Linked DNA regions of Homo sapiens. The protein of the gene in region 1 purifies or fractionates together with the protein of each later gene. This does not show direct contact. Each region holds a gene or a part of one and is shown on either strand. Other genes may lie near its edges.

Region 1 (3,322 bases):
AGCCAGGTGTGGTGGTGGGCACCTGTAATCCCAGCTACTTGGGAGGCTGAGGCAGGGGAATCACTTGAATTCGGGAGGCAGAGGTTGCAGTGAGCCGAGATCGTGCCACTGCACTCCAGCCTGGGCAACAGAGCAAGACTCTGAAAAATAAATAAATAAAGTAAGTAAAAAAAATTTTTTTTTTCTTTTTGAGATGGAGTCTTGCTCTGTCGCCCAGGCTGGAGTGCAATGGTGCAGTCTCGGCTCACTGCAAGCTCTGCCTCCCGGGTTCATGCCATTCTCCTGCCTCAGCCTCCCCAGCAGCTGGGGCTACAGGCACACACCGCCACGCCCGGCTAATTTTTGTATTTTTAGTAGAGACAGGGTTTCACTGTGTTAGCCAGGATGGTCTCGATCTCCTGACCTTGTGACCCGCCCACCTCGGCCTCCCAAAGTGCTGGGATTAAAGGCGTGAGCCACTGCGCCTGGCCGTAAATATTTTTTAAATATAGGCAAGAGATCTTTAATGAATCTCAAGCAGCATTTATAAAAAATGCAATAGGACAGAGAATATCAGTGTGCATTGTGTGACGTATGGGTAAGCACTGTTTCAAGACTCTCCTGTTCCAGAACGGAGAGGCACGGTGTGCGTGCATGGGTTACACAGTACATCACAGCCGTATCGTGGGTTCTGGTCAAAAGGGCTGGCCAGCGTGGCCACAGGGCAACCTCCAGCCCAGCCGGCACCAGCAGGCCTACTGCTCTCTCCCCAGGTGTGCCGAGTGCAAGACCGTCTTCCACCAGAGCTGCCAGGCTGTGGTGAAGAAGGGCTGCCCCCGCTGTGCCCGCCGGCGCAAGTACCAGGAACAGAACATTTTCGCCTGATGCCCATCTGCTGACCCCGCTCTGAAAGCCGGGGGTGAGTGTGGCTCAGCCATCCCGGCTGGGTTTGCCATCAGCCCAGGATACTCACCGTGTCACAGCTGTGTCCCCTTGTCAGGAAGACCCTCAGATGTGGCCAGAGCACCGGCCTCCCAGAGAAAGCCCAGGAAGTCCCCGTGGTGTCCCCTGGCCCTCCCCCCACCCCTCTGCTGCAGGAGGCGTGGCCACCACCAGATGCTCCCTGTCTGGGGCAGGCAGGGCCGTTTACTCACCAGGCCCTGGCTCACCAGCGTCCCGGCGCCTCCGTTAGGGCTGCCCAAACACTGTGGAAAGGGGACTTGGGGAGCATTTTCAATTCCACATTCCTGATTAAAAGGTCTAGTTTTTTAAGGTGGGTTTTTCCCATTCATATTTCAACAGAAAGTATTTTTTTATTCTTGACCCTACGTGAGTCACCCATGAAATCCAGACATTCTCACCCCCAGCGGATGCACAGGAGCCACTCAGGCCTGGCTTAGAGGTAGCGGGTGGCTGGTGGGCAGGCCACTGCTGGGACAGGGTCTATGGGCCCACCCAGTGCCTTTCCTTGGCCCTCACTGCCAGTGCCAAACCGCCCCTCAGCAGGGCAGGGCCAGTCCTGGCGACCCCGGTTCCTCTGTGTCCTCTTTACTCCCCACCCCAGTGCGTCTCGCCTGCTGAGCCCACCGCTTTCTCAGCGTCAGAGCCCCTAGCTCTTCTCTAGCCTGGGGCCTTGGCCCCATTAGGAGAAGGAGAAATGACTGGAAACCAGCACTGTCAGCACTTTGAGCCCTCCTCGGTTTATGGAGGGTCGCCGTCTTGCCCACCCCCGATCCCCGTGCGCTCCTCACCCCTCTACAGACAGGGGCGCTGCTGCAGATGCTCCAGGCCCACCTTGGTGGGTGCCCGGGGTCACACTCTCTGCCTGACTGACCCCTGCCAGGGCACAGATAGGCAGGACCCCAGAGAGGGCAGGCAGCCACGCCCTGCACTGTGGAGAAGTGACCTGGTCCTAAGCTGTGCAGGGCGTGCGGGGGAACTGCCCTGTGGATGCAGCCACCACCTCACAAAGCCATGAATTCCCAAAGCATCACTGAACTTGCCCAGCCGGGACACTGGAGACTGAAGAAGTTCCCCGGAGCAGGACTGCCTTTGAAGGGGCCTTGGGGCTGGGGTGGGAGTCTGGAATTGTTTTCAAAGTGATGGTCAGACCCTCCAGGCTTCGGGGAAATGTGGGTTTGCTGGTCTCTCTGTCGCCTTCCCCCACCTCTCCTGGACCTAGCAGGCCCTCAGTCCTAGCTGTCTTACCTGCGCTCAGCTTGGAGTCAGGCCTCAGGTGGAGAGCCGCATGTCACTGTCAGAGATGAGCCCACCCCCACCCTTCCCTGGGGGCGATTAGCTGCTGAGTCACCCACCCAGCCTTGGAGCTGGATGCCTGTGCAGCAGAACAGAGGCAACGGTGGCAGGCAGGTGGAGGCTGCGCACAGCTTCTCCCGGTCATGGCACACACCTGTGCCCAGACGCCAATGCCTCCTAAGCCAGGAGCTGGGTTATGCACCGCCATGGCCCACATTAACGCTCCACCACAAGCCCAGCCTAGTCAGAGCCCTCATTGCCCCATCCCTGAGTGGGCAGGAGCCTGGCCTGGGGAGGGCTTGGGCCTGTGAGGATTCTCCCCGAAGGTGCCCTCGGAGGCAGCAGGTTTGAGGCCCTGGGGGGCCCGTTCCCCAGAAGCTGCCAGTGCTTTCAGATGCATTGACTCTTCCCGCCTCCCCTCCCTCAGAAAGGTAGTGCCCACACTATTTTTAAAATGTTATTTTATGCAATACACTGTTCCTAGTGAGCAGGGCTCTGGCCCTGAGGAGTCTTTGCAATGTATTGAAGGAATTGCTGCCGTGTGAGTTTTGAATGATTTTGCAGTAAAGACCTGATCTTTCTCATCACTGGTCTGGCTTCTGAATTCTAACACTGCCACGGCCAGGGGGGAGACCACCAGCCATCTGTTACCATCTGTCAGGGTCCCCTACCCTCATGTTAGTCCCTGGCACGGGGGAAGGCTTGGGAGGTCCGTGGCAAACACTTGTAGGCAGAGGGCTTGCATGCCAGGAGTGGGCAGGGAGAAGAGAGTAAGAAAACCACCTTGCCAAGCCCAGCAGTCAGGCTCTTCCTGGGGTAGGATCTCAGGGTCTCTGGGGAGGTGTACCCACACTTGTATAACAACTCAAGCTGATCCCACGCCGGTGGCTTCTTTTCCTGTGACTTAAATGTCAAAACACAGACCCTTGACACTGGATCATGTGAAACCTCAGGATACAGGGGACATTTCTCAGAGGAGAAATAAAGGAGAGATGGGGCTCAGGAAAGAAGGGTTATTTAAGTGGATCCCCCGATTCAGGGCTCATGGTTTTAGGGCTCAAAATGACTTTTACTTGGCTGCTGACCT
Region 2 (3,500 bases), on another chromosome or scaffold:
ACTTAAAAATGTAAACTTTGAAATGTTTTTTAAAAATGGTCTTTTACAGTTACTTTTTTTTCTTTCTTTTTTTTTTTATTGATCATTCTTGGGTGTTTCTCCCAGAGGGGGATTTGGCAGGGTCATAGGACAATAGTGGAGGGAAGGTCAGCAGATAAACAAGTGAACAAAGGTCTCTGGTTTTCCTAGGCAGAGGACCCTGCGGCCTTCTGCAGTGTTTGTGTCCCTGGGTACTTGAGATTAGGGAGTGGCGATGACTCTTAACGAGCATGCTGCCTTCAAGCATCTGTTTAACAAAGCACATCTTGCACCACCCTTAATCCATTCAACCCTGAGTGGACACAGCACATGTTTCAGAGAGCACAGGGTTGGGGGTAAGGTCACAGATCAACAGGATCCCAAGGCAGAAGAATTTTTCTTAGTATAGAACAAAATGAAAAGTCTCCCATGTCTACTTCTTTCTACACAGACACGGCAACCATCCGATTTCTCAATCTTTTCCCCACCTTTCCCCGCTTTCTATTCCACAAAACCACCATTGTCATCATGGCCTGTTCTCAATGAGCTGTTGAGTACACCTCCCAGACGGGGTGGTGGCTGGGCAGAGGGGCTCCTCACTTCCCAGTAGGGGCGGCCGGGCAGAGGCGCCCCTCACCTCCCGGACGGGGTGGCTGGCTGGGCGGGGGGCTGACCCCCCCACCTCCCTCCCGGACGGGGCGGCTGGCCGGGCGGGGGGCTGACCCCCCCACCTCCCTCCCGGACGGGGCGGCTGTCCGGGCAGAGGGGCTCCTCACTTCCCAGTAGGGGCGGCCGGGCAGAGGCACCCCTCACCTCCCGAATGGGGCGGCTGGCCGGGCGGGGGGCTGACCCCCCCACCTCCTTCGCGGACGGGGCGGCTGGCCGGGCAGAGGGGCTCCTCACTTCCCAGTAGGGGCGGCCGGGCAGAGGTGCCCCTCACCTCCCGGACGGGGCGGCTGGCCGGGCGCGGGGCTGACCCCCCCACCTCCCTCCCGGACGGGCGGCTGACCCCCCCACCTCCCTCCTGGACGGGGCGGCTGGCCGGGCGGGGGGCTGACCCCCCCCCACCTCCCTCCCGGACAGGGCGGCTGTCCGGGCAGAGGGGCTCCTCACTTCCCAGTAGGGGCGGCCGGGCAGAGGCACCCCTCACCTCCCGGATGGGGCGGCTGGCCGGGCGGGGGGCTGACCCCCCCACCTCCCTCCCGGACGGGGCGGCTGGCCCCCCCACCTCCCTCCCGGTCGGGGCGGCTGGCCGGGCAGAGGGGCTCCTCACTTCCCAGTAGGGGCGGCCGGGCAGAGGCGCCCCTCACCTCCCGGACAGGGCGGCTGGCAGGGCGGGGGGCTGACCCCCCCACCTCCCTCCCGGACGGGGCGGCTGGCCGGGCGGGGGGCTGACCCCCCAACCTCCCTCCCGGACGGGGCGGCTGGCCGGGCGGGGGGCTGATCCCCCAACCTCCCTCCCGGACGGGGCGGCTGGCCGGGCGGGGGGCTGACCCCCCCACCTCCCTCCCGGACGGGGCGGCTGGCCGGGCGGGGGGCTGACCCCCCCACCTCCCTCCCGGACGGGGCAGCTGGCCGGGCAGAGGGGCTCCTCTCTTCCCAGTAGGGGCGGCCGGGCAGAGGCGCCCCTCACCTCCCAGACAGGGTGGCTGGCAGGGCGGGGGGCTGACACCCCCCACTTCCCTCCCGGACGGGGCGGCTGGCCGGGCAGAGGGGCTCCTCACTTCCCAGTAGGGGCGGCCGGGCAGAGGCGCCCCTCACCTCCCGGACGGGGCGGCTGGCCGGGCGGGGGGCTGACCCCCCCACTTCCCTTCCGGACGGGGCGGCTGGCCGGGCGGGGGGCTGACCCCCCCCACCTCCCTTCCGGACGGGGCGGCTGGCCGGGCGGGGGGCTGACCCCCACCTCCCTCCCGGACGGGGTGGCTGCCGGGCGGAGATGCTCCTCACTTCCCAGACGGGGTGGCTGCCGGGCGGAGGGGCTCCTCACTTCTCAGACGGTGTGGCTGCCGGGCGGAGGGGCTTCTCACTTCTCAGACGGGGCGGTTGCCAGGCAGAGGGTCTCCTCACTTCTCAGACAGGGCGGCCGGGCAGAGATGCTCCCCACATCTCAGATGATGGGCGGCCGGGCAGAGACGCTCCTCACTTCCTAGATGGGATGGCGGCCGGGCAGAGACGCTCCTCACTTTCCAGACTGGGCAGCCAGGCAGAGAGGCTCCTCACATCCCAGACGATGGGTGGCCAGGCAGAGACGCTCCTCACTTCCCAGACGGGGTGGCGGCCGGGCAGAGGCTGCAATCTCGGCACTTTGGGGGGCCAAGGCAGGCAGCTGGGAGGTGGAGGTTGTAGCGAGCCGAGATCACGCCACTGCACTCCAGCCTGGGCACCATTGAGCACTGAGTGAATGCAACTCCGTCTGCCATCCCGGCACCTCGGGAGGCCGAGGCTGGCGGATCACTCGCGGTTAGGAGCTGGAGACCAGCCCGGCCAACACCTACAGTTACTTTTAAATTAATGTCATTTTTGAAGAATGGATTATTTAATGAACATTTTATATATAAATATATGTCTTTTTGGAAAGGGGAATTGAGTCAAGAGCAGATTTATATTCTCTTAACTGTGCTTTATTTAGGCTGAAACTAACAATTCTCCAAATATAACTGATAATCTATAAATATTTAATGACAAGTGGCAGTCTATTTAGGGAAAACTAAATTAGTATTGAGACAGTCTTGTGAATAACATATTTAACTTTAATTTTGAATTGTGAATTTCAGTTCTTTTCTTTCCATTCTTTCATTCTTTCCTACTTGCTGCCCTGCCCATTTTTTTTTTTTTTTTTTTTTTTTTTTGAGGCAAGGTCTCACTCCGTTGCCCAGGCTGGAGGGCAGTGGCTTGATCTTGGCTCACTGCAACCTCCACCTCCCAGGTTCAAGCAATTCTCATGCCTCAGCCTCCTGAGTAGCTGGGACTACAGGCGCCCGCCACCATGCCTGGCTAATTTTTTATTTTGTATTTTTAGTAGGGATGGGGTTTCGCCATGTTGGCCAGGCTGGTCTTGAACTCCTGGCCTCAAGTGATCTGTCCACCTTGGCCTCCCAAAGTGCTGCGATTACAGGTGTGAGCAACTGCACCTGGCCTTGCCCTGCCTTTTTAAATTAATTATTGTCATCTATTTTATTCTTCTGCCTTGTGTGGGAGAATAAAATCATCCTGTTTTGTTGTTTCTTTCTTCCATGAAACAGTCACTGAGTATCATTTATGTGCTGGGATCACTCCAGGTCTTGGCGAGTTAAATGAAAATGACATTGGCCCAGCTCAAGGGCCAAGGTGTGGGGTTTGGGCAGATGTGCACATTATTATAAAGTGATGTGGTGGCGAGACCACTTGTATTAATTTAGAATTTTACGTGTGTATATATATATGTGTGTGTATATATATATGTTTTAAAACTTTGTTTGGAATGCCTCAGAAAATGTTTTTTA

What was found. The genes of interacting proteins can lie anywhere in the genome.
Region 2: the proteins of PLEKHM1 (region 1) and SEH1L purify together in Homo sapiens (affinity purification with mass spectrometry; one study listed by BioGRID and IntAct). This does not show direct contact.

The regions. Positions count from the first base shown.
Region 1 is NC_000017.11:45,435,400-45,438,721, reverse strand, and holds the end of PLEKHM1 (pleckstrin homology domain-containing family M member 1), read left to right. Parts: intron 1-752; coding exon 753-864; 3' UTR 865-2,822; downstream 2,823-3,322. UniProt on the Homo sapiens protein: Acts as a multivalent adapter protein that regulates Rab7-dependent and HOPS complex-dependent fusion events in the endolysosomal system and couples autophagic and the endocytic trafficking pathways.
Region 2 is NC_000018.10:12,979,011-12,982,510, forward strand, and holds part of SEH1L (nucleoporin SEH1), read left to right. Parts: intron 1-3,500. UniProt on the Homo sapiens protein: Component of the Nup107-160 subcomplex of the nuclear pore complex (NPC). The Nup107-160 subcomplex is required for the assembly of a functional NPC.